Linked DNA regions of Homo sapiens: all the other regions are linked to region 3. Evidence: fine-mapped expression QTL. A gene starts in region 3. Each other region holds a variant in brackets. All regions are shown on one strand. Distances are from middle to middle.

Region 1 (7,825 bases), 16 kb after region 3:
CCAGGTTATTTCGATGTTTCTACCCTGCCATCCCCAGTGTTCTGGTTTATCCTCATAGGCTGCTGTCTTAATGGACCCAAGGTGCTTTGGTTCCAGGAACAACACACAGAGCCCAAGTCCAGAGGCAGAAAAGCAAACATTTTTATCTTGTGGCTTTTTCTTTTTTTTTCCAAGAGAAACCTTCCCAGAAGCCCCATCAGCAGATTTCCTTTTTTAGCTCCATTGGCCCAATTGCGTCACATGCCTGAACCAATTGTTTAGCAGGGGAAATCACTCCGTCCTCTCTAGCTTCAACCATGAACTCTCAGTCCTGGGTAAGAGGGCAGCCTAGCCTTCCCTAAAGGACTTGGTAACTTGGAATAAGATGAACAAAATCAGAGTTCTATGAACAACGAAGTTGGGGGATGGCAGAGGGGACAGCGACTAACACGTCCATGTTAAACAAGAGTTCTCTGCTTTCTCTTCTTGAACTTGAGGGGCACAGCCTTGGGGATTTGGGGGATGCCCCTTTGATCATCTCATTTCTTCTCCTTGGTAGCAAGTAATTGATAGAATCACACCAGAAAAAAGAGCAAAATATGACAAAGAAACAACTTTAATACAGTGAGGATACTGGGGAACAGACCAGATGTGAGCAGACAGGGAAGTCTTTAGCAAAACTGTGGAGTGCCCAAAGCTTGGCTTCTGATGCGTGGAGCCTTTCCGTTTTGTGTTCTTCCTCCTCACTCCACATCCCACCCAAGAAACCTGGTATTTTAATATTCTCCTCTTTGCTCCATTAAAGCATCAAACATATTCACACAAGGTTTACGTGACCAAGGAGTGCAAGATAGGGATTAAAAAATAGACTTGAAATACCAGCTCTGCCATCTGCTAACTTTCTGACCATTTTGGGCCTCAAGTTCCTCACCAACAAAGTGAGAATAATGATACTACCCAGCAGGTTGTTACCGCTATGTTTATTAGTGTTCATCCTATTGGAGCAAGCTGACTGCTAACAACTTTAAAATCATGATGGCTTAACACAAGTTTGTTTCTCACTAACACAGAGTCTAGTGTCGATGGTCCTGATCGGGTGGCTTTCTGGTGACCTGAGGACTCAAGGATACTGCCCTTGCATTTTAAGGTGCCACTGTCTTCAACACAGGATCTTTAGGTTTTCGTTTGAAAGTTGTGGCTGCTTTAACTTGGCTTGGAAGCATTTCGTTGTTGAGAACTAGGACCCGAGATCCAGGGTGGGAGCTGGAATAGAAAACTTTGCTATGTGCCCAGGTAGAGATGTGATGAGCATCAAGCTAGTCTCTGCCACATTATTATTATGGCTGTTGCTGTTATTGTAACTAATCCTGTGTATTGAAACGGCAGTCATTTTCCAGATGTAACTACGGACCCTAACAGTTCACTGATGTTCATGGCCATAATTCCAGGAAGCCATTTCTGAGAGCTTATGTACCTTAAATCCCAGTTTGAGGTGTCTAGGGAAGAGACAATAGTCCATTAAGGATGACAGCAGGGAAGTCTAGTAACTTCTCTCCTCTCCACGATACTTAGCATGGTGTTGGACACAGCAGGTGCTGACCCAGTGACTGTGGCACTTACTCATGGTGGATGCACTACTCTATTTCCTTGGGTCCCTTTCCCATTTTCACACCCCTTGGCTCCACGTTTGCTTTTACTCTCGGTATCCAGAACCCATGCTTCTTTGTGAGAGGGCTGCCCTCATGCTTCTGGAGTCTCCTTTACCTGTGTGCAGAGAGAGTGGGGGATACCTAGAAACATGCATCCCTCTGAGATGGCCCTTGACCAATGGAGGGAGGGGCTCTCAGTCTCCAAATCTCCTCTGTGGGAGGAGCCAGTGCCCTGCAAGCACGGGACCTTGCTTGACATTGCACTCTTGCTTGGCTTCCTTCTCACTGTCTTGCATCCTCACTTCCCTGCAGGGGACACTGCCCAACACATCACTTTCTCACAAATCTGCATCTCTGGGATGCTTCTGGGGAACCAGCCTGAGACAGGAGGTAAGCTGAAGAAGCAGAATTTTGAAGATTCTGGGCTCTGTTTGAATGGAATAGCTGAGACGGGTCTTTGAGAACATCAGTATTTGCCTCCCACCTCAGTTTTTACATTCACAAATTAAAGGATCACACAGGCAGACTTTGGTATGATATGCAGTTCCTGAGCAGTGTTGGGACTCAAAGACGTTTATGGCAGCTCATCAGCCTGCATCCAGTGCTTCAAAGGGTTCTAAGAGACTGGCTCAGCCAACTGCCAGCCTGGTCATTTCGAAACTGAAATGAAAGCAGCAGAGAGAGTTATATTTATCAACTGAGTGAGACTTGCTTTTCTCAACAGGATATTTACGTTGTGAACTGGTAAAATCTGAACTGCAGAATATCAATTTCCAGACATTCTTCCTAGATGATGCCGTCTGCCACGGGTGAGTGTTTTCAGCTTTATGCTGACTATGTATTAATATAAAGCCATTCCTTACTCTTCTACCTTAATATATAGTCTCCTTGGTTTTAATTAGGTCTCTCCTTGCTTCTGAACTTCTGGTTTTCCCCAGTAATGTTTAGGAATGACCTCAGACCAGGTACATACAAGGTACAACGTGGTATGTACAAGGCTGTACCTCAAGCCACGTGAGAGGCTACCTTGGCCTTGGGCACTATGGTGAACACTGTAAAGTGCCACGTAGATCCCCTCAATAAGGACTTGCAGTCCCAGTGGTGCAGAGTGCTGCTGGCACACAGAGGTTGCCTGGGCTGCAGAGAGCAGCCTTACTGATGTCACACCCCTGCCCATGGCACCCAAATCTAACAACTGATTGATGTGGACACATAAAGATCTGGCCATCTCAGACCAACTTAAAACAACTCTGAAGGGCCATTTGAGCTTCCAAGCCCTGCACCTGTGGGACTGACCAAGGCTCTCTTTGACCTTGGCTCAATTTCTGTTTCTGCATACTGCTTCCTCCTCTTTACACAGGTGTTGACCCCTTAATAGGCATTCTACACAAAAAACTCCATCTTAGAGTCTGCTTTCAAGGGAACCCAACTTGTAACAGTCACATTTCCCTCCCTCACCAGCCAGACTCTCCCTGAAGACATCAGGGAGGAATAAGTAGAGTGGTCCTTCAGTGCTGGATGCAGCTTGGCTCTTGCTTTCAAACCCTCTGGGTGTCTGGTAAGGATAGGATAAGGAGAAAGAAGGGTGCAGTTTGAGGATTGTATGATGGCAGGGCTACCTCATTTTGATGCAGGGAAAGGGGTAAAGAGGCCTTCGCAGTCTCTGCAGGGGCCCTGCATTATAATCCCTGAGCATCTTTAACCGGGGCAGCTCTGTGTTCATTCCAGACATCGTCCCTGAGGGCTCCTTCTCCCTCATCCTCACACTCAAATGCTGAAGAGGTTAGCAAGTCCTGCTGACTCTTCAAACTGTATTCTGAATCCATCTACTCTTCTCCCTTTCCTCTGCCTCCACCCTAGCCAAAGCCACGACCATCTCTTACCTGGCTAAAGTGTGTCTTACCTCCTTGCAATTCATTCTCCTCACTATAGCCAGAAAGATTTTTGAATACTGATATTTTTCACTCCCAGGAATTTCACTGTTTCTTTTCATAATTGCCAGCTCTTGATTGTAATGATCTCCTCTCATTTGACATATAGATACCCACCCACATCTCTCCAAAATACGAAGTATACAGATTATAAGTTTCTGTTCTGATTTGACTATTAGCTCGGTTTCCTCAGTTATAAGTTTTTTCTTTTGTGGAGTCTGGTGATGCTCTTGTATGGAGTTTAGCATCTTCAAATGGTTGATGTATTTAGATTGTGTGTAAAGCTCTGTGCTTTCTGCTTGTTGTTGAAATGCAGCCTGGTTTCCTGCAGGTCCCTTGGGGTGTGGGTGGGAGCTGATGCCTTGGCTTGCATTGTGGGGAAGCTCAGCACAGACCACAAGGCAGGGGCTCACTGTCCCACCTGCGTGTAGAGGCTGCCTCTTCCTCCTGGGTGTCATCAGCCATCCAAAGCTCTGACCTGGTCTCCACCCCAGATTTCACACTGACAGGTACTGCTGGGTGCAGAAGCATCACTTCCTGACCTGGAAATCGTTCCTAATAATGCAACCGAAAGGCCATCCCACATTTTTTTCCTTCACGACACTGACCATAATGAAGAGTTAGTAAATATTTACTCATTTATGGCTGTATTTGCCCACTAAAGCAAGCTCTATGAAGGCAGAGATAAAGTCTGTTTGGGTTACCACCAGGTACCCAGTTCTCGACACTGCATTTGACACACACTTATTTCAAGAAATCGTTATTGAATAATGTGTTGTTTAGGCTTCCATAACACCTTTCATTTAAAGAAAGGGTTCTTAGCTCAACACAGTTTGAAATCAACCACGAGAGAGGACACCTTATCAAAGAAGGAGCAAAGGACCTTGTGCTTCTGTGTAGGTTCTGTGGGGAAAGGTACCTGGTGAGGTCTGCTGCACAGGCCCCTTGTCCAGAGGGAGCTGCAGTCCTGCCGCTGTCCTAGGCTGACTTCACCTTCCCGAGAGCAGGGAGCTCATTTTCCTCTGAACTCGCAGACTGCTGCCTGCAGAGAGGCGGAGCCTGCAGAAACTGCTGCAGGGCCATTATGGGGCATTCCAGGAGACGATTACATTAGCTGCTGGGTCCTGGGGGGCTCAGCAGGCAGGAGGTAGAAGGAAGGAGGGAGGAAGGGCTTCAGCCTGCACCGCTTTTGAGTTATCCTGAGGTGCCAGCACCCCCAACCCCTCATCAGCACCACTGCCATCTGCACCCACCTGCCCACTGCTCTTCGCAGTGGTTGCCAGCAGTTGGTAAGGGACCTTCCAGAAAAAGAGAGTGTTCATGCCACTTGAGGAAGAGGGGGCTGTAGAGATCACAGCTTCTCTCCGCACCTCATTCTATAGCTAAGGGAGCTGGCCCAGAGCACAGATGACTGGCCCAACGTCACACAGGCAGTAATAAGTGGGGCTAGGGCCAGGATGCAAAGTTACTGATCCCCAGGGCACTGGGACTGCAGCAGACTGCCCTCTCCTTCTCTCTCTTTTCCTCCTGTTTCATCCCCTTTCACCTTGTCTGCTTCATCTTGTTCCCAGCCTCTTACCACTTCAGCCCTGTGCCACCACTACAAAGACACTACCGCACCACTGACACCCCAGGCTCCTGGGCCACTACCATGCATTTTGCCTACTCCTGCTTGGGGCTGAGGGGCTTGCTGGCCTCTGACCAAAGCTCTCTCTATGGTTTCAAGCAGAATCTGGGAGCTGCAGTATTAATAGCAGGGAGGGCCTGCACCAGCCCAGGATTCCCACGCCTCTCCAGGAGCACTGGTGATTCATTTTACTCCCAGGCTCGCTCTTATCCCAGGAGAACAAGAGCCTGATTCCCAGATTCCAGATCCGATTCCCTGAGATGAGAATATTCCTGAAGCCCCTGGACTGTGCATGGCTTTCATTTGACAATCTCGAACACATACCTTTGTCTTTATCCTCTCTGATCGCCTTCTGCCACAGCTCCTCCTGCTTGCCCACCTCCCCCAAACAAGATCATTCCCTTGAGTCACTCTCATATCTGACATTAC[G/A]CCTCGACTCTTGTACCCAGCACACTGTATTGCAATGACCTGCTTCTTTCTCTGTTTCTTAGTCCTTTCAGGGAGCACCTTCAGTGCAGAATATGTCTCCAGCACCTAAAGAGCTGGCGCTGAGAAGGTCCTCAATCATTGTCGGTTGCAGGGGATCTGGCCACCTGGGATCCAGCTCTGTGGTGCAAATGGGAGGAAGGGAGGCAGAGCCAGGTTTCCCATCCCCAAACCGCCCAACCCCACCTCCCACCTCCCACCCTCAGTTGGAGCCTAAGGTGACAAGGGGCTGCTGCTCCTACCTTGCTATGTTACAATTTTCTAACTAACCAGAGCCTGTCCCCTCAGATGAATGTGTGGGAGGGAGAATAGCCCGAGTGAGGAGGCCCTCCCAGCATTCCTGACCAGCTGGGGATCCTGGCGGGACGGATCCTCCACAGGAGCGTTTTTCTAGGGTGTGTTCTATGGAACGCTGGACCTGTGATGTGCTCCGGGAATAAAAGGTTCAGAGGTTGCTTTTGGGAAATGCCGCTTCCTACAAACCTGTCTGTCCCTGTTGTAGCTTCACGGTACACCCTGCAGCACGAAATGTGAATTGTAAAACAGTAAAAACAAAACATTAACAGCGGGGGACATTCCTCTGCTGACCCCAAAGTTCAGCAGGTGCGGGACAGGGGAGGGGCGGGCTCTCTTGTCTGCATCAGGCTTGGGGAGCCATCTCCGCCTCGGGGCTCGCAGACAGGGCTTCTCTGCCAAAGCAGCACCTCGGGGCGTGTTCTCCCACCCATCTGTGTTCAGGCATCCCTTCCCTCGCATCTGGATTTTGTTTAGGCCTATTTGCAATTCCTTAAAAAAAATCTAAGAAATAGTTGGAGCCTGAAAGAGAGCTGGCCAATGAAACGCCCCGTTGGGGCATTACCGCATCGGTGAGTGGCTGCCCTGAGGCGATGGCTGCGTTTCCGGGGCACCGCCGTGCGCCGGTGCCCACGCGTACCAGGCTTCAGGGGAGCACTCGGGAAGCGCGGGGGGTCGCGTGCCCTTGGCCGGAGGCCTGGTCGCCCGCTGGCCTCGCCATTCTCGGCTCCGCTGCTGTTGCCTGCGCGCCTGTGGCGGAGCAAGCCTGCCTCCAGGGCAGCCTCACTGCCGGGATCCTGGGCAGACCTCCCACGTGATAACCGTGATCACGGTGTTGATGCTCACTCTGGGGCAAGGGTGCTCACGTGTTCTCGTAATTGGGCGGAGTAGCCCTTCCTTCAAAGTCAGCCCCGGTCCCCTTGCACTGTGCAGCCCCTCTCTGCCGGACCCTGCCCGCATTAAATCTCCCCTTAACCTCTAAAATGCTCATTGCCAGCGCCCTTCGTTTGGTATTTGTAGCAGATACTGTCTCCTGCTGTAGCGCCATGTCTGTTCCCCCTTTCTACCATGATATAAAACCTCCTGATTTTTAGCTGGGCGCATGGTTCTGGAATCATGACTATGTTCCCAATTCCCTTGCAACTAGATGTGACTAAGTTCTGGCCAATGGGATGGTCATGTTCTACTTCCAGGAAGTGTCCCTAAAATAAGGGAATATGTCTTTTTAGGTCCCTTCCTCTCTCCAGCTGTCTGGAATGGAGCTACCATGTCTGGTGCCCAAGCAGCCAGCTCTGACCCAGAGTTAACATATTATGGATTGTGGAGCCACAGGATGGAGTAGCCTGGGTCTGATGGTTCTGTTAGTCAAGGCTAGTCAAAGAAGCAGGACCAACAGGAAATACATATGTTTATGTATGTATATGTTATGTATATGCTATGTATACACATACACACACACACAGATACACAGAGAGAGAGAGAGTTAAGAAAGTGGATCATGTGATTGTGGGGCTGGCAAGTTCAAAATCTGCAGACCCACAGAAGAGCTGATGTTGCAGCTCAAGTCTGAAGGCAATTTGGAGGCAGAATTCCCACTTCTTCAGGGGACCTCAGTCTTTTCTCTTAAAGCCTTTTACTGATTGAATGAGGCCCACCCACATTATGAAGGGTCATTTGCTTTACTCAAAGTTTACTGATTTAAATGTTAATCACATAAAAAAAACCTTCACATCAATGCTGGTGGGTGATTGAAGGTGGTAAGCAAGGAGTGCCAAGGTCAAATTTGGATTTCAGAAAAATCTCTCTGAAACCAGTGATGGGTAGAGGAGAGTGAGATTGCAATCAGAGAGTCCGGTTAA
Region 2 (7,825 bases), 33 kb after region 3:
AGATACAGAAATCACCTAAATGTCCATTGACAGATGAATGGATAAAGAAAATGTTGCATATACATATGCAATGAAATATTATTCAGCCTTTAAAAAGAAGGAAATTCTGTTACTTGTGACAACATAAACCTGAAATCCAAAAATGTCAAACTCATAGAAACAGAGAGTAGAATAGTCGTTACCAGAGGCTGAGTGGGGAGGGATATGGGAAGATGTTGGTCAAAGGGTATGAGCGAGGTCTGTTATGTAAGGTAAATAAGGTCTGGAGAACTACGTACAACAATGTGACTACAGTTAATAATATTGCAGACTTGAAATTTGCCAAGAAGTTAGCTGTTAAGTGTTCTCACCAAATCAAAAAATGATAATGATGTGAGGTGATGAACGCATTAATTTGCTTGATTGTTGTGGACAGTTTACAACATACACATATATTGAATCACTGAATTGTACACCTTAAATATATACAATTTTTAATTGTCAACTATACCTCAATAATGTTGGAAAGAAAGAATAGTGTGAAATATTTTATATAAATGTATTAGCTTCTTAGGGTTGCCATAATGAAAGTACTTCAAATTGGGTGGCTTAAAACAACAGAAATTTAATTTCTCACAGTTCTGGAGGCTGGAAGTCCAAAATCAAGGTGTTGGCATGACCATGTTCCCTCTGAAACCTGTAGGGGATTCCATGCCTCTGCTAGCTTCTGGTGGTTTGTGGGTAATCTTTGGCATTTCTTGGCTTGCAGCTGCATAACCTCAGTCTCTGCCTCTGTTGTCACATGGCATTCTCCCTGTGTGTGTCTCTGTTTTCACAGGGCTGTCTTTCATTCTTTTCTTTTCTTGTTTTTGTTTGTTTTTTGTTTTTTTTAAGACAGAGTCTTGCTCTGTTGCCCTGGCTAGAGTGCAGTGGTGCAATCTCGGCTTGCTGCAACCTCTGCCTCCCAGGTTCAGGTGATTCTCTTGCCTCAGCCTCCCGAGTAGCTGGGATTACAAGTGCCTGCCACCGTGCCCAACTAATTTTTTTGTATTTTTAGTAGAGACTGGGTTTCACCATCTTAGCCAGGCTGGTCTCAAACTCCTGACCTCATGATTCACTCACCTTGGCCTCCCAAAGTGTTGGGATTACAGGCGTGAGCCACCGTGCCCAGCCCGTGGCTGTCTTTCTGTAAGGACATCAGTCATGTCAGACCAGGGCCCACCCTACTCCAGTATGACCTCATCTTAATTTAAGTATACATTTGCAACAATCCTGTTTCCTAATGAAGTCAGTTCTGAGGTACTGAGAGTTAAGATTTCAACATCTCTTTCTTGCACGGGGAGGGGAGACTGATTTAGCCCCTACCAATAAGAGAAAAAATACTATAGCACAGTCTGGATGTAGTGATTTCTTTCTACAGTCCACACACACACACACACACACACACACACACACACAGAGCTGATGCAAGCACATGCTGTCAATGCAAAGGAAAAAGACAGATGTCTCCCTACGCTTTTCTAAGCTTTTATATATTATACCTCACATTGTCAGCTCTAAAATCCTGTATCTAATACATTTATCTATCTAATAGATTTTTTAGATCTAATACATTTATTTATTTGGTAATAAATAAATAATAAATTTACCAACTGTCTTGGTGAAAAGGAGTGCATGCTGGATGACGGATGAGGCCTTGAATAATGGCCTTCCCTGTCACTATGGCCACTCTCCACTCAAGGATCTATTGTACAAGAATTGGGGTGGCTGGGGACAGAGATGACTGACATCTACCAGCCAGTTAGCCGGTTCCTCTGTCTACCTGCTTAGTGAGTGTCCTGTCTGTGCCAAATCTTCTCTAGTGGCAATGATGTGAGACACAAAGATCTGCACATTTTGTGGCCACTTTCAACAGTTCATCTACATGCTTCTTCCCAGACCACTTTGTCTCTGATCATCTAAACTTGCCCCTTCTAAACCCCAGACCAAGACCAGCCAAGTTATTTGCCACTACATGGAAGTCCATATATATCCTTATCTCATACCACTTCTGGCATACAAAGTGGACAAACAAGAATACTGCTCACAGCTCTACCCTCTAGGAGGGTTTCCCCTCATCACTGTCCTTTAGGGCCACCACTGAGTTGGGTGGTAGTGTTGACAGCTGCCCATTCTCAGGCAGCATTGAGTATCTGAACCAATCTATCCATGAACCAGGAATGAGCTGTGTTGTTCCTCCTTCATCAGTGAATCATAGAGTTCCCTCACTCCTGCCCCCATATTTATAGATGTGAGCTGAGAGACATGTCAGGACAGCAGAGGTAGGTGACATGGAGCCCTGGGCCACCCTATACCCTCTGGACTTGCTCAGATCTGGTCCTGAATATACCATTTCCATCATACCTTACCACCTTGTTGGATCTGACAATGTCCAGCTCGTAATAGGAAACTCCTATCATATAATCACTTGATGTCCCACTTTCAGGTGCTTGATCTCTCTTGACCCCTTATCACATCAGAAGCTGTTTTTCTGAGTAGTGAGTAATTAAACAATAAATAGTCTCTTGAATGGAGTAGACATGCCTTTCTCCAGAACCCTACCCATTCTGTACTGCAAATCTATTAGGGTTTGTCCAAGATTTCCTATAGCATCCTTTCCTACCATGGATACCCCGAGCACTGTTGGATCTGTTGAATTATATGGCCTCAACAGCAGAGTATGTTGTCCTGAAGCCTAGAATTTCTTCAGTTTTCTTATGCTTTGGGTTCCACTCAAAACTGGTAGACTTCTAATGACCCAAGAAATGAGTCAAAGAAATAATCTCAAGTGCAATATTGGCTGCCTCCTAAAATCCAAAGTCGCCCACCAAACCATATAACTTTTCATAGGGGTAATTGTTTACCTTAGGATGCTGCAAACCATGGGACTCCTAAAATCTTCATCAATATGGCAGGACTTTGATACTGTAAATGATTTATGTTTCACCTTCATGTGTTTTACTATGACATCCAGAGTACCGGCCACTTTCTGTTCACCAAGTCCAATTAGCATAATGTCAACAACATAGTATACCAGCATGATATGTCAAGGTGACAGAGAGAAAGAGAATACATATAGCCTTGGGGAAAGACAGTGAATGTGTACTCAAATCCTTTCTTAATGAGACAGAACTGATCTTGACCATCCTTCCTGAGGAGGTTGGAAGATGACTTGTTTGCCAGATGGATAGCCACAACCCAGGAACCAAAGGCTGTGCTGCTCTGTTCCAGTAAAGATACCACATCCAATTAGGTAGCTACATACAATTGGGACGCAACTTAGATAACGTTCCGGTAGTCTGCTGTTATTCACGAAAATCCATCTGTTTTTTGCAGAGACCATGTAGATGGATTGAATGGGGATATGATGAGGATGACCACCCCTGCATTTGCTAAGTTCTTGGGAGTGGCATCGATCTCAGCCATTCCACTGGAATAGGGTATCGCTTTGATTTTCTATCTTTGGTGGGAATGGGCACTTTCTGGGTTTCCATTTGTTTCTTCCTTCCTGGTTCTTATTTCACAGGTCAGGAAACAAAACGTGAGGGCTCTACCAGCTGCTCAGTCTATCCTTTCCAATTGAGCACACTGGAACTGAGGAAGCAAAGACAGGGTGAGCCCTAACACCCTCATCATCACTGCTGAGCCTGCCTTGACAAGAACTCCATTTATCACCCGCCTCCATAATAGCCCATTCTAACTAGCTGTCATCGTGGCATTTCAGGTTCTGCTGATGTCATTGTAAGGTTAGACCCTGTATACCCTGAAAAATCTGTATATTTCCATTTTCTTAGTGTAAAGTTACACAGGTCCCTTTGGGGGAAGGTTTGTGGCACTGCAGGGTTTTTTTTTCAAGGGGGCCCGGCCTCCCCTTCAATCACTAGGCCAGGGGCCCGAGAACTGACTCAAATCTGGGAGCTAGGTGAGGGATTATCATTTTTCTTTTTGGCAGCAGACATCAGATTTCAGCTTACCTTCTCTTAATATTTTTTCTGGTTACACAAGTCAAGAAATATTCACAGTGGGTACTCACCCATCTTTCTTCTAGAAATGCCCTATGTGTACAGGACCCTGGCTGGCACGTTGGCCTTGCTGCCATATGGTAGTCATATTCACTTTGTGGTAGTCATATTCACTTTGATGGCAAATGCTGCGACTTGGCCTCTGCTACTCCAAAATATCTTCATCTTCAGTAATATTAGAGAGGTCAGTTCTGTGGCAGCATTTTCTACTGTGAACCATAGACCACGGAAGACAATCACTAGTGAGATTCCCAACAATGCTGGTGGCCCCTCACCAGTGAGTTTCTTGTTTTTGTATAAAGGGCATGTCCTCTTGGCCTCACAGGGAACAAGATCAGGGTCTCTGGTCTTGCATAATAAAACCTCCCTGGACTGTCTGACTCCTTCCTCAATACCATGCCATGGCAAATATGGCATCTTTCCCCCAGGGAAAGATGATAAGGCTGTCATCTTATCCAAGCTTCAAGAAACCTCTGACCAGCATTATTAGGATAGGCACAATTGTCCTTTTGAGGACAGTGAATTATAGGATAGAGTCAGTAGACCTTCCCTAGTCAATCTTATGTATAATACCCAAACCTCCTGACCCAAAACTCTCAAGATCTGCCCCCTATGTGTTTCTCTGACTTCTCCTGGTAAGAATTAGGCCCTTCAACTCCTGATGAGTAAACCAGTCATCAAATACTTGGTGAAGAGCTTTCATCAACTGCCTTTGCAATGGGACTTCATTTCCTTCTCTGGGGTTTTGCAGATAATGGACCTTAACTAGTGGGCTGAAGGCAATGAGGGGATGTGAGGATGCATC[T/C]TGTGAAGGACAAAAGTCATCCTGTAAGTAGTCCCCTCAGGTGAGGACTTCCTGTGGTACCCAGGTAATGGAAAACCACAAATCTGACTGGAGGTCTCGACATCCTTTATAGCAGTAGACCAAATGTTAGCTACATCTACCAACACTTCCAAAACTTTTTATGGAACAAACAGCGACAAATACCAAATGCCAAGTAACCAAGTTACAACACCTCACTTCCTTTAGGCGGTGCTGTCAGAAGCATGGTTCAATTCTCACTTTCAAGTTTGAGGTAACTCTAGACCCACGCCCTGCCCTCCAAAACTGTAGAAAAAATACTGCGAAAGATGTCTTCTTCATGTTCCTCAAGGTAGTTATTCTCACCCAGAGAGCGGCAAGTACTTGGAATCTTCCTGATATTTTTTTCTCCTCCAGAGTTTTAGTGATGAAAGATGTTGGGAGAACACAGAATGCTAAGCCCCACAAATCTTGCTGGAGAGATCTCCTAGAGAAATCAGAATCTTTCAAGATTGTTTTAGAGAAATACGCTACCACTCTGACTCCATTCTAACAACTCCTCTGTGACCCAGCTGGCCTGACAAACTAAATCATGATACTCTGCAAAACATATCCTTTCACACATGAATGCCCACGGCAATGTTTCCTAACCATTCATGAGTCATAAAACCTATGGCAGAAACCATTCTACGTGTTCACCAAAACATTTCATTTTCCCTCTGGGCACCAGGAAAACTTTTTTTTTTTTTTAACTTTTTCTAATCTAAGTGAGGCTATGTAAGGAGTTCTGCATAATAAAATGTGGGCAAAATTGATGTCAGCCACTTCCAGATCATGCCCTTAAAGTGTCCTACAGAATTATCATCCACACTCTATGTCTGTTATCATTAGCTGTCAGGATGCAGAGTATCAAAAAAGGACTTTAACTTATTTATTTATTTTTTGAGACGAAGTATCACTTTGTCACCCAGGCTGGAATGCTGTAGCGTGATCACAGCTCACTGCAACCTTGACCTCCCAGGCTCAAGCTATCCTCCCACCTCAGCCAAAGTAGCTCACACTACAGTCGCATGCCACCACTCCCGGCTAATGTTTGTATTTTTTATAAAGAGGAGGTTTCACCATGTTGCCTAAGCTGGCCTTGAACTCCTGGGCTTGAGTGATCTGCCTGTCTTGGCCTCCCAAAGTGCTGGATTACAGGCATGAGCCACCATGCCCAGCCCAAATGAAGAACTTGGAGTCCATGGTGAAAGGCAGAACCTCCCCAACTCAACTGAGCTGGTCATGAGTGAAAAGTACATCTTTAAGCCACACCTTTCAAATGGGTCAGCAAATTTGATAAATTTGGCAAATTTCAGCTATTCCCACCCACTACGTATACCTCTCTTACAATTTATAGTAAGGGAATTAGCACTTTCTATGGGAATTTAAAAGGTGTTAAAATATATACTGGGGGGAAAGAAATTTAAGAAAAAGTGGTGGTTCTTAATGGTTTAAGAAACTTAATGGTCAAACATTTCTAAGAATGCTTGCCCCTGGGTAATATTTCTAACTGGTCAAGTCACAATTATTACAGAATGGATCTCCCCAGTATCAATTGCTTCCCTATAGCTTCTATGTGCAGCATATTTATGCCCTGAGTGTATAATGTCTGGCCGTAATGACAGGAAAGGTTGGATTCTAGGGGTGGAATACATCAAATCGCTAGGATGTCACCAAGCCCACTGTGTGGGTTAAATGCTACAGGCAGAGGGTTGTGCCACCCATTCCCCACCTTCCCTAACTCCCATCCTACCCAAAGCTTCAGCCAAAAGGAAGAAAATGCCTCCCACATGGCCACAGGCTGAAGTGCAGCCCCTCGGTGGCCAGAAGTCACTCACATGCAGGCAAAGATGATGTTAACAATACAAAGAATCAGAAAAAGACTGAATTCCTTAGATCAATCTGTTTAGCTTCAAAAGCTAGAATCTCAAAAGTCTATCTCCTGCTGACTTTATTTGTCTTTCAACTTTTCAATGCCATTGCTCCTGCCTGAACAAAAGACAAGAAAGTCCAGTCTCATCCCAGAATAGACAGAGCTCTACACCACTGCGGGACTAGAGATTATTCCTCATGCTGGGCAGGGCAGGGTAGAAAGAATAGAACCCATCAAAGCAAGAGGTGGCTAATTCCCCCAACAAAACTAAATTAACAATATTAGCCCAAGTGAGGAAGCTGAATCTTCTCAGGGTGTTAAACAGTTTGTTCTGTTTTCTATATTAAAGACCCAAGTGTAGTTTATTGTTTTTATGGAGCTAAGTTAATTCACATGTTAAATTTAAAAGGTTGGGTGAGACAGGAGATTTTGTTTGTTTCTAGTATTATTTGGCAGAGTATAAAAGTCCCTGGACTTAGAATTGGAAGGCTTGGCCTCAAATCCACACCCTTCCTGGTACCAGCCCAGTGCCCCTGGGCAATCACTCAACCCATCTCCTTCACTGGCGGTTGTGGCAGCCCTTCTCAAGCAGCGTTGAGAGACCTTAGCTCCCTAACCCAGTGGTTCTCCAACTAGCGAGTGCTCAGAATCACCTGGAGCGTTGGTTAAAACAGCACTGGGACCAGTCCCGAGTACTCCTGGAATACAGCCTGAGAATTTGCCTTTCCAGCAAGTCCCCAGCCTGGCTGAATGCCATTCCCAGCCCACCCACCCCTGGCTCCACTTTCTCTTGTACTAGCTGATATCGGAAATTCCACCGAGAGCCCCAACCCAATTTAGCTGGGAAGCTTTACTCTTATTAAAAGGTACATACACGAAACAATATTAGCAGTTAGACTGTATCTTTCACGTCTTATCCTTCTTTATCATTCCCGTGTCTCCCTTGCTGTATTGCGTGCACAAGTTCACACGTTTGAGGAACGAAACTTCAAACATAGTCTGTACCAAGAGGCTTTACTCTTTTCTTTTTCCTCTCTACCCCTTTCCCCTAGAGCTTGGTCAAGATGT
Region 3 (7,825 bases):
AAGCCCAGTATCCTCCCAGGACTCCATCAAAGCAGATGTGCAGAGGGCAGTAGGGCCTGAGCCAGAACCAACACCCCTGGGGGAGGCCCATGAGACCTTTAGGAAAATGAGACAGGCACAGGAAAGAGATGTCTAAAGCCACCATTCTGGGTTTGGGAATGTAAAGAACTTCAAATCAGATAAATGAAGACTGCAGAAGAAAGAGGAAGAAATGGAAGTTGCTCTCTGACAGGACATGAATTTGGCAAGGGGTGGATTAGGCCGAGTGCTATCTGCAGTGATGAAACGCAGCAGCTGGTGGTCATGAAATAGTTATGAATGGGGAGAGGACACTGTATTCTGCAGTGTAGCACAGGGGAAAGCGAAGTTTCAAGAATACTGTAATAGCAAAACCCTCCATTAATTATCGGAAGCAAGCTGTAATGCCAGTTCCTATGGCAACGGGGTCCCCAATGGATTTTGTACTTTTTTTAAAGCTGCTCCCATTTACTATGGTACATTGTGTTTGTTTTTTACCAGAGATTTTGTGCTTGTCCTCTGCAAATGAATTCATCCTGTCCTCACAATGGCTGGTGTGGAGACCCACAGGTGGGGCCTGGGGAAAGTTAAAGATGATGCAACTTAGAGCTAAATGCTCTGTAAGGGCATTGATGACCGCTATGAGCACCTTCACTTCTGAGGGGAAAAGGAGGGGAGGGCAGGAAAGAGGTGTGGGAGGGAATAACTAGGGTGCATGGCTAATTATAGGGCATCTATCCTAGCCCCCACATGCATGGTCTTTGCAATCCAGGCTTGCACCAGGGAAGAGTCCTTGAACCCAGCTGGGCTCTCCAACAACGTGCCTGCTGCAGCTGCAGTGGAAGCTGATAATTGCTCAGAAAGCTCAGACACAGAGTCCTCTGGGGTAAGGGTGTTGGAGAGAACAGTGGCTTGGTTCCCAGGGGAGCAGGCTGCCCCTCCCAGAGAAGCACTGCAGGCCTCCTCCACCTGTAGGCCCAATCTCTCTGCACCCCGTGCCCCATTACTTATCACTTTCCCCCCCTCAGTGTGAAGTGGGAGTTTAATTTGGTGGCCCTTTGAATGCAGGTCTTCCAGGGGAGATGTTCTGTGCTTGCCTGGCCATGGGCTGCTGTTCACAGAAACATTCTGTCCCAGGCCACAGGAGCGCCTCAGAGCCACTCCGGGGCGTGGGCGAAGCGGTCAACAGCGGCTTCCTCCATGCTGCCCTGGATGAATGACTCTGACAACTTGATGGCGGGGCAGCCTGCCACTCACTCAGGAAGAGGCTGCCTCCAGGTGGGGAGCTTGTATGTTTCCCTCTCCGGGCTGCAGCTGTGGCTTGGGAGGTGTCCTGTCTCTTTGGCGGCCTCATGAGGGCTGTGTCAGTCCTGATAAATGGCATAGGATGGGGAGTCCCCTTAATGGGGGACAGTACAGGTCTCCTGTCCATGGGGCTATTCCAGGCCAAAAATAGATTCTACCACTGCAGAATGATTATGCTGGCTCTACTGTGCTTTCTAAGTCATCAAAGGGACTCACAAACGGGTGAGTAGAACTGGGAGGACGCCAGAAGAGGGATGAAATAAAGATTGTGTATGTGTATGTTTCCTTTTGTGGAATTCTACCTGGAGCCATAGGAACGCGACTTACCACTCATGGGAAAGGCTGTGCCCAGAGCCAAGGAGGAGCTGTGGGGACGTCTCTCCCAAGTCATCCGTTCTCCCCATTTAGACTTCATCCTTAGGACGGACCTTCAGGCACCCAGGCTGCCTACTGACCTCCCTGGCATGGGTGGGAACCGGGAGCTCGTTGGTAAGCAGGAGGATTCAGGACTATCGACTGAACCCCACCTCCTCTGTGGCACGCACCGTGCTGTGTCTTTGCAGTCATCATCTCATCACCTCTGCACAGGAAGATTATCTCCCCCATTTTGTGATGAGGAAATGGAGGCTCCAGGTGGTAAGTCATTGCCCAGGCCACACTGCTCCTCAGAGGCAGAGATGAGATCAGAACCCACTTCTGTCTGACCCCAAAGCCTGTGCCAAATGCCTTGCTCAATGGCCTCTTGCAGGAAAGGGCAGTGTCCCATTACAGCCAGACCCTAGCATAGTACCAGGCTCTGCAGGCTCTGTATCACTTTCCCAAGGCCCAGAGGGGGCACACCACAAAATGCTGGGGGCGTAGGAAGAAGATATCAGAAATTCTAGTTGTGATTTCCTATTATCCTAGTAAAATATCAACTTTTATGTCATTTGTGATGCATTTATTAGCTCAGTAGCACATTTATAGAATTTATAAATCAATAAACCTTCGCATTGTGGAACACATGCTTAAGTTCATTTTACTGATATTGAAAATGAGGAAAAAGACTAGAGTCACATGTTCAAGACAGTGACCAGGGTCCACCCCAGGGCTCCTCGGGGGCCAGAAAGGACGGCTTGCCGAGGGGGCCTCCATCTTCCCTGCAGCATTGTTTGTTCCCCGGGATCCTTCCAGGCCTGCTCGACTCTCATCTCAGTCCCCTGTGCATTTCTGTAGGAAGCTCACTTTTACTAGACCTGAGAGGGCTGGTTGTGTGCTCTGCTGCTGTTTGCCGTCTGCGGGGGCTCTCCAGTGGTCCAGTGGGCATTACAGGAGCACAGGGAGGATGAGGGGAATGAAGCGGGGAGTGAAGGGCACACACACTTAGACCCCACCGGCCACCTACAGAAGGCCTGAGGGGACAGCCCTTTCTGAAGTGATGCCTTCCTCTGTTGGGAAGCCAGGAGCCTCCCCTGGTGGGATCCATGAGGCCCTGGGTGTGGGGCAGGATATGTGGGACGGGCACAGAGCCCCTTCCATTTCCTTCTCAGGCCAGAATCATAACTGTCCATGCATTCCTTAAAAGCAGAGAGGGACCCTCTCCTTCCCCATCCATCAACAGCCTTCGGAGTCTAATTACATGCACGGAGCTTCAGTTCCCTTCTCTGTAAAATGGGGCTAATACTAATAAGACCTCTTCAGGGCAGTGTAGGAAGTCAATGAAACTCCAACATCTCCAAAACCACCCAGCAGATCACAGGATCTTGAAGTAAGCACAGTGTTTGGCATACAGTAGGCGCTCATCAATGCTGGTTCCTTTCACTCTCTGCCACTTGCTGGCTATGTGTGACTTAACCTCCCAATGCCTCCGTTTCTTCATTTTGAAGTGAAAGATGATGCCTATCCTCAACTTCAGACGAGATCCGGCACGTTCAGGGTGGTATGGCCGTAGACCCCAACTTCAAAACAACAGGCACACCCATTCAATTCAGGTAGCACCCTCCAAATGTGCCATGGGCTTAAGAGGCAGGAAGAGAGCCTGGTATGAGCCCACGGCTTCGGCTCCTGTTGCTCACTCTCTGCAGATCCTTGTGCAGTTCTCTGGGGTCACTTGCTGGTCTTTTTGAGTTTCAGTTTTCTTATTTGTAAGCTGGGGATGGTCATATCTCATTAGATTTTTTGGAGGACTAAATGGGACAATAAATATAAAACGCTCAGTACAAAACTTAGTCTATGGTCAGTGTTCAACAAATACTAGTCACTGGTAATAGTAGAACCACCTGCATTATGACACTATTATTTCTAGGCTCTTATGAGGATTCTCATTTACCAGGCATACTAGCCCTGCAAAACGGACACTATTGCTTCCATTATACAGATGAGGAAACTGAGGCTCAGAGAAGCTAAGTAACTTCTTCAAGGTTGCCCAGGCTGGGCGCAGTGGCTCATGCCTGTAATCCCAGCACTTGGGAGGCCGAGGAGGGCAGATTACTTGAGGGGAGGAGTTTGAGGACAGCCTGGCCAACATGACAAAACCCCGTCAATAAAAAATATAAAAATCAGCCAGGCGTGGTGGCACATGCCCGTAGTCCCAGCTACTCAGGAGGCTGAGGCAGGAGAATCGCTTGAACCAGGGAGGCAGGACTTGAGCATGCCACTGCACTCCAGCCTGGGCAATAGAGCAAGACTCTGTCTCAAAAACAACAAAACAAAACCAAACCAAAAAAAGGTTGCCCGGTTGCCCAGTGACAGAGCCAAGTCTTGCTTTCCAAGCTTGGGCTCACTCTCCTACACTAACTACCTGGCCCCATGCTGCCCAGTCCTGGGCTAGCTGCAGGAGGCTGCCGCATTACCCACCTCAAGCCACACAAGCACTGGCAGTAACAAGAGGCCGTAGAGAACCTAGAGTTCTCCAGCGGATGTGGTTCTCTGGCTGCCGTGGGCTGCCAGGGATCCCTTAGATCGCGGACTCCACAGTTCTTTCTTGCCACCTCCAGAAGGAGGCTGCAGCCCCATGAGCCAGGCAGCAGGAAGGGAGGAAGTCTCGCTTCTTGCCAGACACATTGTTTAACTGCAACAGTCAGTCCTCCAAAAACTCTGCCGGAAGTCCACCCCAGAAACTCAAGGGAGGAAACTGACTGCCTTCTTGGGGTTTTCTTAACTGTGCTTTTTCTGCTCTGCAGGAAAGATGCAACCTGGGCCAGAGGCCCCTGGAGGTTGTGCCTGAACCCAGACAGATCACACAAACCTGAGCAGCCATTAGCCGCTGTGTGGGCTCCTTTGCACTGTGGGGCTGCTCCTGGGGTAAGTGTGTGTCTTTGTGTGTGTGTGGGGTTCGGGGGCTGGGATGGCTGACTTACAAAGGACACGCTGTGGCCCAGCCCTGGGCAGCATCCAGCCTGCTTAGGTGGCCTTCTGTGGGCTTGGCCAAAAACACTGAGGCCTTTCTCTGTTTCACCTTCTTGTGCCAACTTGGCTGTGTGTGAACAAAGAATCACAAGCACACACCTGAGTTCACACTTGTGTAAAATTGGACTGAAGAGCTTGGTGAATCAAAGTTCAAGAAGGGTGACTTGGCCGGGCATGGTGGCTCAGTCCTGTAATCCTAGCACTTTGGGAGGCTGAGGGGGAGCAGATCACTTGAACCCAGGAGTTCAAGACCAGCTTGGGCAACACAGAAAGACCCTGTCTCTACAAAAAAATTTAAAAATTAGCTAGGTGTAGTGAGGTGTGCCTATATTCCCAGCTACTCTGGAGGCTGAGGTGGGAGGACTGCTTGAGCCTGGGAGGTTGAGGCTGCAGTGAGCTGTGATCATTCCATTGCACTCCAGCTTGGGTGACAGAGTGGGACCCCATCTCTTAAATTTAAAAAAGAGAAAGGAGAAGGAGAAGGAGGAGAAGGAGAAGGAGGAGGAGAGGGAGAGGAGAAGAAGAAGGAAGAGGAGGAGGAGGCGGGGGGGAGGGGGAGGAGGAGAAGAAGGAGAAGGGAGGAGATGGAGAAGGAGGGCACCTCAGAAGCCCTCAATAAAAACAGGGAGGAAGAGAACAAACACATCAAAGCTGCTGAGTCTGGTGCCAAGAGCAGGGGACTTAAAAGCTGTGTGACTTTGTCATTTGAGTTAACCTCTCTGATCCTCAACTTCTTGTTTGTGAAGTAGGAATAAGATTTTTTTGTGAGTTTGTTCTGAGGCTCATTAGTAACGTACGTAAAGCTGTTGGCTCCTGGTCTCTCTTATCATTCAGGGTTAAGCTTCGAAGTGGGCACAGGTGCTGGCAGCTATGGAATGGTGGGGAGGTTGCAGGGTGGGTCCCCTGGTCACAGAGAGCTTCTCACTGCCAGGGCTCAGAAGCCCCCTCACTGAGAGGCCTCACTGCCAGGGTTCAGAGCTCCCTCACTGGAGAGGGACTTCTTGAGTGTTGCAAGCTACATGGACAGACCATCTATGAGATCAAGCGTCCAGGCCCCTGGGCCAAGCAAATCTTGGGCCAAGATTGTGTGGCTTTAGGGGACATTATGGAGCCTCTGAGGGCCTCAGCTCCTCCTCTGTGAACTGGGGACTGTGGTGGTGATAATGGTACCTACGCATACAGAGATTGACAAGTACTGCTGAAACACAGCTAGGGATGTCTGTCTCACATCAAAAGGCTTTCAAACAGCTGTTTTTAATAATAATAATTATTAATTATATTATAGTTATTAATATTTACTTATATTATTATATGTAATAATTATATATTAATTACATTATCATATTAATTATTAAAAATAGAATAATAATTATTATTAGCCCTGGGAGAAGGTTATCATGAATTTTTTTTGGAGGGAGGTCAGATGACAGCTTGTCAAGGTAACAGAGTGCAAGAGAAGAGCCTGCCTCGGTTGGGGGTGGTCAGGGCCTGGGCACCCCACGGAGACACAGGGGAGCCTAGGGGAGGACTGAGACCCCTTCTCTTGCTCAATCAACTTTTTCAAGTCAACAGTGACATGTGTGCCAGGCTCTGACCCCTGATCACAGCTTCCCCTGACAGGGGCCTCTGTGGGGATGTCTCACAAGGCCAGGGAGGACCTGGAAACACATCCCTCCCATAGGCTACATCCCATCGTCAAAAGGAGACCTCGGGGGACCCACCTGCTCCTCCTGCCTGCCCCTGCCCCCAGCCCAGAGAACCAAGCTGAGCCACCTGCCTGTGCTCCCAAAAAGACACCCCTTCTGTCCCAGCTTGATTTCCACAAAATTACCTGTGGGGCATGTGCTGGCCAGAGGCCAAGTGGGCTCATCTATCTGCCCAGGGCAGCATTTTAGAACAGGGAGTGGAAATAGTGTCCAGGTTGTAACGAGTTTTTGGAAGAGGGGAGGGGGTGGAGAACAGAGAAGGAGGGGGCCAGGGAGCGGGAGAGAGGAGTCACCCGAGGCTTCTCCTCTGCGGCGTTTAATGGGAAAATGAGATATTTCCTAGGCAATTGCTTTTAGGTGACTATTGAAATTAATGCCTCGTTCCAGCAGCACATCTTTGTTAGAACATTAGTCTCTCAGAGGGAGCAAGAAAATGAGAAGGGAAAACAAAACAAAAACAAATTACCTGAAATGAGCCCAGTAGAGAAGGCTGAGGACAGAGGACTTGGGACCATGGAGAGCTTGAGGGTGAACTGACTGTGGGATCATGCGAGGGGCCTAAGCGCTGAGGAGCCTTGGTGGCCTGGCGAGACTGTCCCGCCCAGGGGCTGCCCTCCTCTGCCACCTGGGGCTGGGGTATGGTTGCTGAGTGACAGGGCGACTTGGGGTCCACTGGACGGGTCCTGCCGAAGTCCCTGCTTGGCCTCTGGGCTCCCTGGCCTTCTGAGGTGACGGGGAGGCTCTGAGCCCACACGTGGTCTCTCACAGGCTTTGGGGCTGCATTCACAGTTTCTCAGTTTCCCTGACAGTGGGGGTTCACTGAGATGTTAGGGACCCCTGTAGTGATAATATCCGCTATGACTTATGAGCGCTCCCTACCTGTCAGCCACAGTCCCGGGAGGAGCAGCCTGGGTTCCTGCTGGGGAGAACCCCTTGAGCCAGCGTGAAGGCTGTGACCTTCCCAGGTCTTATGGGCGGGGATTCCTCAGAGAGACTCGTGCCTTGCTTCACTTGAGGCCTGAAAAAGCTCCTGTTTGTTCTTTGATTTGGGAGGGGGCGGGGGTTGCATTTTCCTTGTTTTTTGCTTTGTTTCCGTGCATGTATAGAATTGAGCCAAATGGAATAGATGCTTTAAACTCTGAATGCATTTTGCCATTGCTGTTTAAAAAGCTTGTTCTCGTTTAAATTCACGTCATCAGTGAATGAGAGTGTTTACCTCACAATATCCTCACCGGTTTTATATATCATGCTTTTCAAATTTGTGCCAATTTTAGAGTGGGAAAATGGTTGTGAATGTGAACTTATAAAGGAAATAATTGTTGGCTGTTGTGAAAAATGAATATTTGTGTTCATTTCCTAAAAACTAGAGTTGGATCCCTAAGAATACCCAACATTGTCAAACAACAGCA
Region 4 (7,224 bases), 25 kb after region 3:
TCTAACCATTTCTTGCTGGGGGAATGTTTGCATCCTTGGTTAGTTAAAACTTTTGTGTTCCTCCCATGTCAGAAGCCCCTGGATCTTGTGTGAAGCTGTGCATTCCCTGATTAGTTTGTTTCTGTCCTTCTGTGGCTTGTTCTAAAGGGCTTTGCTGCTGCCTTCATCTGGGGAAATTCACACACTAATGCAGTGGTATCTCATCCCAATCTATTAGGTGTGACAACTACTGGCAAGAAATAGATTTGTGTTTAATTCTTTGTTGCCCAGCAGGGACCTCTATCACCCAAAGGGAAACAGCCGTCTATCTACGAAGCTGTGATCTCCCCTACAAGCAAGAGAACTCAATTGCCAGGAGGTCTTTGCTTTTTCTGGCTTCCAGAGAATGCAGAAATTTCAAGGAGCCACTATTGGGCTCCTTCCCTATAGGATGTTGGGCCAGGCAACAGAACAAACCTCCTGAGGCACTTCTACCTGGGAATGCCCTCCTGAGGCCAATGGCAGCCCTCTGATGAAGATACTATAGTATTTATTTTTTGTACACGCTGGTGATCATCCAGTGTACATCTCTGCTTAGTGAACCTTCATGAACTGGAGGCTGAATATTCTCATCCTGCATTGATAGAACCACGTAGGCTGGTTCTAGGCTGTTTTCTGTGCAACACTCAACATGACAATAATAATGATGATGATGCTAATGATGATTGTAAAATCCGCAGTAGTTGCCATTTATTGCCCTATTTGGCTTGTAAGACTTGGCAGATCACAGTGACATACACACACACACACTCTCTCTCTCTCTCTCTCTCTACTGTGTGCCAGGGACTGGACAAAGCACTTTGCATGCATTATAACACTTTTCCTAACAATCCTGCAGCAGGCAGCAGTAGCATCCCCGCTTTATAACTAAGGAAGGTAGAGTTCAAAGAGGTGAAGAACTTGCCTTGAAGTTCAAGGCCATACAGCCCAAAGTGGCAGAATCAGACCTGTACCCAAGTCCATCTGCACAAAGCTGGCGCTTCCACCCTGTACAACATGGTGTGTTTCCAGTGGGCTGTGACTCTCTGGTGGTGGAACCAGCCTTGTCAATTGCTGTCTGCCACATCCAGTCTGACCTGGCTGCCTGGGCATTCTCCCACGCCACGGGCAGCAGTGGTTCTTGCTGCCAGGGCTCCAGGGCATGGGCAGCAGATGGGAGGGAAGGAAGGCCAGCTGTGCAGCTCTGCCAAGCTGAGAGGCGGGGTGCCTATTGATTGACTGAAATTCGATTTGTTGACACAAACTGCCAGCATTTCACAGTGATGAAAGGATGGCCCACCAACCTCATAACAAGCAGAGATTTCCCTGAGGGTCACCAGAGCTGCTGATGTGGCTCCTCTGTGAGGAGAAGAAAGCAATTAGGAGAATGGATGAGGTTATTAGGTCTTATTGCTTCCCTCAGCTCCTGCACACACTGAGTGCTGTGCGGCGTGGGATTTCAGGCTCCCTGTCCTACGTGCTGCGGATTCTGTTTGCGCCTCTTCCACTGCAAAAAGCCAGCTGGGGGACAAACAGCTCATGTACGCTGACTCCAAGCATGTGGAGAATGCACACACAGATTTAGGACACCAAAAGAAACCTGCAGGTGGAACCAGCTTTAGCAGACTTTAAAAATAACAAGATCATTGGAGTATAAATACAAATCCATGAATGCA[T/C]GAGGCACACCCGTCTCTCCCTCGCTTTCTCCATCCCTTTTTATGTTTTGTCACATTACAAATATTTAGACTGGTTTGATTTAAAAGATCTATTCAGGTAAGCTGGCCAACTACACGTCTATGCAGATGGGCAGGGGAGGAAGAGGAGAGGAGGGTATGTTCTGTGAGGACAGCATTGGTTTAGCAAGTGTTTATCAAAATCTGGAATATGCACAGCAGTAGGGGTGGGTGTATGAGGGGGAGAGGTAAGAAAATATCAGGAATAATGTCACCTTATATTGTATAAGTGGGTTTTTGCAGCAAAATATACATAACATAAAATTTACCATTTAACCATTTTAAGTGCACAGTTCAAGAACATTAAGTACTTTCACATTATGTATGGCACAGCCATCACCACCATCCACACCATCCATCTTCAGAACATTTTTATCTTCCCCAACTGAAACTCTGCCCTCATTAAACAATATCTCCCTATTCCCCACTGCCCCCAGCTCCCGACAACCAACATTCTACTTTCTGTCTCTATGAATTTCACTACTTTAGGTGCCTCATATAAGTGAAATCACGAAGCATTTGTCCTTTTTTTTTTTGCTGGGCACATGTGTCTAGTGTTATGAGAGGAGTTGGGAATGTTTGAGGGTTGGCCAGGGATGCCCCACCCCCTCCTAGGGGCTGGGCTCGGGCGTTTCTGAAACGTCCCTGAAAGCATCAGGGACCAGGCCCTGGGAGCTGGAAGGTAGAGGCAGACCTATCTGGGCCGGCCGGGGCAGTGGGCTGATGGGTCTCACAGCCGGCCCAATCTCTGGCCACTTTGGCACAGGCCTAGGGGATATACAGGCCCCAGATCCAGCTCTGACAAGTACTGAGAAGGGACAGCTTTAGTCCCCAGAGGGCAGAAGCCTGAGTCCAGGGCAGCAGGGGCAGGCACAAGTCTTACTCAGAGGCTAGGGGTGGTCAGCACCGTGCTGAAGGCTCAGGGGTGTGATCCTCAGCCATCCAAGCTGGGTCGGAGGAGCCTTAAGTTTGGCAGTGGCTCCTCTGCCAGCTCCCGCTCTCCCAGCCAGGGCTGGCTGCCCCCAGGAGCCAAGGAGGGGGCGCCAGGTCTGTGGCAGGAACTAAGAATGCCCTGGTCACTATATACATTGGTACAAATACATAAATACAGAAAGCCCCGAGCTCCACGGAGAAGAGCTGAAGGGACGCACCTTTGTCCCAGGGATGGCCCAGGCCCTGCCAAACTCAGGCAGGCCAGGGGCTGAGGGGGCAGAGGACACTGGGGACAGTTCCGTCTGTGTTCCCCAGGCCACAACTTGAGTGGACAATGGGGAAGTCCACTGTGCAAAACTGTAAAAGGCACTCGGAGTAGCTACTACCGCCCACTGCCCGTGGGGGCCTCTGGCTGGGGGCTAGAGGCGGGTAGGGAGCTCTTCCTCGCTGTCCCCGCAGTTTCCACAGCAATCCTTTGGCGACTGAAGAGTCTCTGCAGCAGTCCCTTGCAGGTGGCTGGCCCTTCCAGTCCAGGTCTGGGGGAACTGAGCCATCCAGCCCAAAGACATTCAGCTCCTGGAAGCACTCAGTCTCCACCATCCCCTTCTGCCAGGGGATGGGCACACTGCCTGTGGCAAACTTCTGGTAGAAGTCTTGGTCGGTAGCCTCCAGCTCCACACCCTTGACCCTAGAGAACTGTTTAATGTCCAGAATATCCTTGCAGTAAATGGCCCGAGGGTCAGGCTTGAAGGGCGGCTCCAGCATGCCGGCTCCCACCCGCTTGAAGTTCAGCTTCTTCAACAGGGGGTGCTCCTTCACTTCGCGGGCACTGCCCCCACGACACCCCAGGCGTTCAGCGGGGTCCTTGCAGAGGAGCTGTGAGCAGGCCTGCGGGGAAAAGCGCTCGGAATACTCCTCGGGGTCCTCCTTCACCAGCCGCTCCACCTCCTCCCGCTTGATCATCTTCTTCCTCTGCTGGAAGAGCGACTGGCCTGCAATCATCTCCTGCGGGAGGCAGCCTAGCGCCCAACAGTCAGAGCTGAAAGTGTACGGTTCATTCTTCACCACCTCTGGAGCCATGTAGCTCACGGTGCCCACACGGCCTTTGATGGTCTGGCCCTCGGGCACGTGCACAGCCAGTCCCAGGTCGGAGACGAGGATGTGGCCGTGGTCATCCAGCAAGATGTTCCTGGCTTCAGGTCCCTGTACACTATGCGCTCCCGGTGCAGGTCCTCCAGACCGCAAGCAGATCTCGGGACGTAGAAGACGGCCTGCGCTTCGGGGAAGCCAGCCCGGCCCATGTGGCAGATGTGGAAATTGAGGTCGCCCCCGTTCATCAGCGTCAGCACCAGGCACAGCGCCTCCTTGGTCTCACAGGTGTAGGCCAAGCTCACTATAAACCTACTGTTCACTCTCTCCAGGATCTGCTTCTCGTTCAGCGCCATGGCCTCCCCTTTCTGCTTCTTGATCCGCTTTTTTTCTAGCTTCTTGAAGGCGTACATCTTGCCTGTGGCCCGCACCTGGCAGGCGCACACCTCCCCAAAGCCACCTTTGCCCAGGACTCGGTACTGCCTGAAGGTATTTTTGGTCACTGGCTGCCTTTCCAGCCACTTCCACTGCAGGAAACGGTTGAAGTAGATGCTGTTGAGGTAGTCGGCAAAAGGGGCCATGCTCAGGTACCCGTGGGTCACCCGGGTGAGTTCCTGGGAGAGTTCTTTGCAGGGCCCCTGCTCCAGCCGCTGGGTGCAGTTCGTCACCAGCTGCCGGGGGGACCTCAGGGATGAGGTCAGGAACCTGTGGCTCAAGAAAATTCTGCATTAGCCGCCGCCCACATGCCTTCCGCTTCTCATCCGGGGTCGCTTCATACTCGGCCATCCCATCCTGGAAGGCGATGCAACGGCTCAGCTCCGGCCTGGTGGCACAGAACTCTCAGAACAGCAGGCGCCCGATGGGCTGCCGCTCGCACAGGCTGTGATAGTCACGTTCGAGACTGAGCCGCAGCTCTTCGCACTGGCTGATGTGGGGGAACTGGAGCATCTGCCGCCATTTCTTGCTTTTGCCTTTGCGATTTCCACCGCTACCTTCCCGGGCCTTGAGGAGCACCGTGTCCGCTACGATGTTCTCGAGCTCCATGGGCCGCGCTGCCGGCCGGGATCGCGCGCGAGTGCCCAGGCCGGATGGCGATCGGCGCGGCTCTGCTCGGCTCCCAGCGCGGCGGCTGCCACCCACTCCCCCACCTCTCCCGCCCCGCCTCCCCAGCCATCGCCTGCGTTTGTCCTTTTGTGACGGGCTTATTTCACCGAGCATAATGTTCTCAAGGGCCATCCGTGTGGTATAGTATGTGTTGGAATTTCCTTCCCTTTAAAGGCTCAGTAATATTCCATTCTATGGCTAGGCCACATTTTGTTTATTCATCATCGGTTGATGAACACTTGGGTTGCTTCCATCTTTTGCCTATTGTGAATACTGCTACTATGAACATGAGTGTAAAAGGATCTGCCTGAGATCCTGCTTTCAATTTCGGGAGATAATTTCCAGAAGTGGGACTGCTGGATCATACAGTAATTCCATGTTTAATTTTTTTGAGGAATTGCTGTAACTTTTTTTCTACAGTAGCTTCATCATTTTACTATTTTACATACCCACCAGCAATGTGAAAGTGTTCCAATTTCTCCACGTCCTTGTCCACACTTGTTATTTTCTGGGTTTTCTTTCTGGTTCTTTTTTTTTCCATAATAGTCATTCTAATGGGTGTGAAAAGGTATCTCATTGTAGTTTTCATTTGCATTTCCCTAATGATTGGCGATGTTGAGCATCTTTTCATGTGCTTATCGGCCATTTGTATATCATCTTTGGAGAGATGTCTATTTAAGTTCTTTGTCCATTTTTAATTGAGTTGTTTTTACTGTTATGTTGCTTTTTATTTTTATAATGGCTAGGTTTAGAGTTGTGGATTTACCCCATTTTGTGGAGAAAATGAAGGTCATGGAAGTTCAGGAACTTGCCTGATGTCTCCCAGTTGGGTGGGACTGAAGTGCAGCCTTTTGGCTTCTTTTTTTTTTTTCCGTATTTTTCTTTTATTTTATTATTATTATACTTTAAGTTTTAGGGTACATGTGCACAACGTGCAGGTTTGTATGGCATATGTATACATGTGCCATGTTGGTGTGCTGCACCCATTAACTCATCAGCCTTTTGGCTTCTGACCCTGTCTTTCTCCTCTGCTCATGCTGTCTACTCCCAGATGGCGAGATGTGGTTCACACCTTTCAGACTTCACATTTGACTTAGGAACAATACAGGATGACGTAAAAGATGTGTCAAATGAAGGTTACAGAAGATGAATTTTATGGACATTCAGAAAAAGGGGCCTGCTGTATGGGTCATTTGGGAAGGTTCTGTGACAAAGGGGAACCAGAGGTGAACATTAAAAAATAGTGTGATAGCAGCTAACGTCAAAATCAATGGGGAAAAACTGAAAGCTTTCCCTCTAAGATCTGGCACAAGGCAAGGATGTCCACGCTCACCACTTCTATTCAACATAGTGCTAGAAATCATAGCCAGAACAATGAGACAAGAAAAAGAAAGACATCCAAGTTGGAAAGGAAGAAGTAAAATTATCCCTATTTGAAATGGATGATATGGTTATATACATAGAACCCCCTAAAGACTCAACCAAAAACTGTTACAGCTAATAAATACATTCAGTAAAGTTGCAGGATATAAAATCAATATATGCAAATCAGGTGCATTTCTATACATAAACAGTTAGCTGACAAGGAAATCAAGAAAATAATCCCATTCACAAAAAAGATGAGAATACTTAAAAATAAATTTAACCAAAGAGATGAAACACTTGTACACGGAAATTGTAACAACAATGAAGGAAGTTAAAGAAGATACAGATAAGTGGAAAGATACCCATGTTGACTGAAATAATTAATATTGTTGAAATGTCTAAACTACCCAAACTGATTTACAGATGCAAAGCAATCCCTATCAAAATCCCAATGATGTCCTTTACAGAAATAGAAAAAACTACTCTAAAATTCATATGCAGCCAGGTACAGTGGCTCTCACCTCTAATTCCAGCATTTTGGGAGGCCAAAGTGGGTGGCTCACTTGAGGTCAGGAGTTTGAGACCAGCCTGGCAAACATGGTAAAACCCCACCTCTGCTAAAAATAGAAAAGTTAGCTGGGCATGGTGGCAGATGCCTGTAATCCCAACTACTTGGGGGGCTGAGGCAGGAGAATCACTTGAACCTGGGAGGCAGAGGTTGCTGTGAGCCGAGATTGCTGGACTGCACTCCAGCCTGGGCCACAGAGCAAGACTCTGTCAAAAAAAAAAAAAAAAAAAAAAAAATCATATGGAACTACAAAACACCCAAGTAGCCAAAGCAATCTTGAGCAAGAAGAACAAAGCTGGAGGCATTACCCGCTCTGATTTCAAAATATATTACAAAGTTATAGTAACCAAAATAACATGTACTGGCATAAAAACAGACACATAGAACAATGGAAAAGAACAGAAAGCCCAGAAA

Evidence for each region. PIP is the estimated chance that this variant, and not a neighbour inherited with it, causes the effect.
Region 1: its variant is the best candidate, but not a certain one, in a credible set for the expression of LINC00539 in whole blood (INTERVAL, PIP 0.64).
Region 2: its variant is the best candidate, but not a certain one, in a credible set for the expression of LINC00539 in whole blood (INTERVAL, PIP 0.74).
Region 4: its variant is the best candidate, but not a certain one, in a credible set for the expression of LINC00539 in whole blood (INTERVAL, PIP 0.67).

What each region holds. Positions count from the first base shown.
Region 1 is chr13:21,325,186-21,333,010 of GRCh38, reverse strand. LINC00539 (long intergenic non-protein coding RNA 539) reads left to right here. Exons shown (of 3, transcript NR_103841.1): 2 at 2,353-2,437. It also overlaps the pseudogene MIPEPP3. Among named protein-coding and RNA genes, the nearest start is that of LINC00539, 16 kb to the left of the region's middle. The variant G/A (reference allele first, on the strand shown) is at 5,616.
Region 2 is chr13:21,308,085-21,315,909 of GRCh38, reverse strand. All of the region lies in intron 2 of LINC00539 (long intergenic non-protein coding RNA 539), which reads left to right. It also overlaps the pseudogene MIPEPP3. Among named protein-coding and RNA genes, the nearest start is that of LINC00539, 33 kb to the left of the region's middle. The variant T/C (reference allele first, on the strand shown) is at 4,846.
Region 3 is chr13:21,341,446-21,349,270 of GRCh38, reverse strand. It overlaps LINC00539 (long intergenic non-protein coding RNA 539), which reads left to right and starts at 4,412. Exons shown (of 3, transcript NR_103841.1): 1 at 4,412-4,605. It also overlaps the pseudogene MIPEPP3. RefSeq lists a silencer at 2,471-2,674 and an enhancer at 6,560-7,063.
Region 4 is chr13:21,316,749-21,323,972 of GRCh38, reverse strand. All of the region lies in intron 2 of LINC00539 (long intergenic non-protein coding RNA 539), which reads left to right. It also overlaps the pseudogene MIPEPP3 and the pseudogene GRK6P1. Among named protein-coding and RNA genes, the nearest start is that of LINC00539, 24 kb to the left of the region's middle. The variant T/C (reference allele first, on the strand shown) is at 1,695.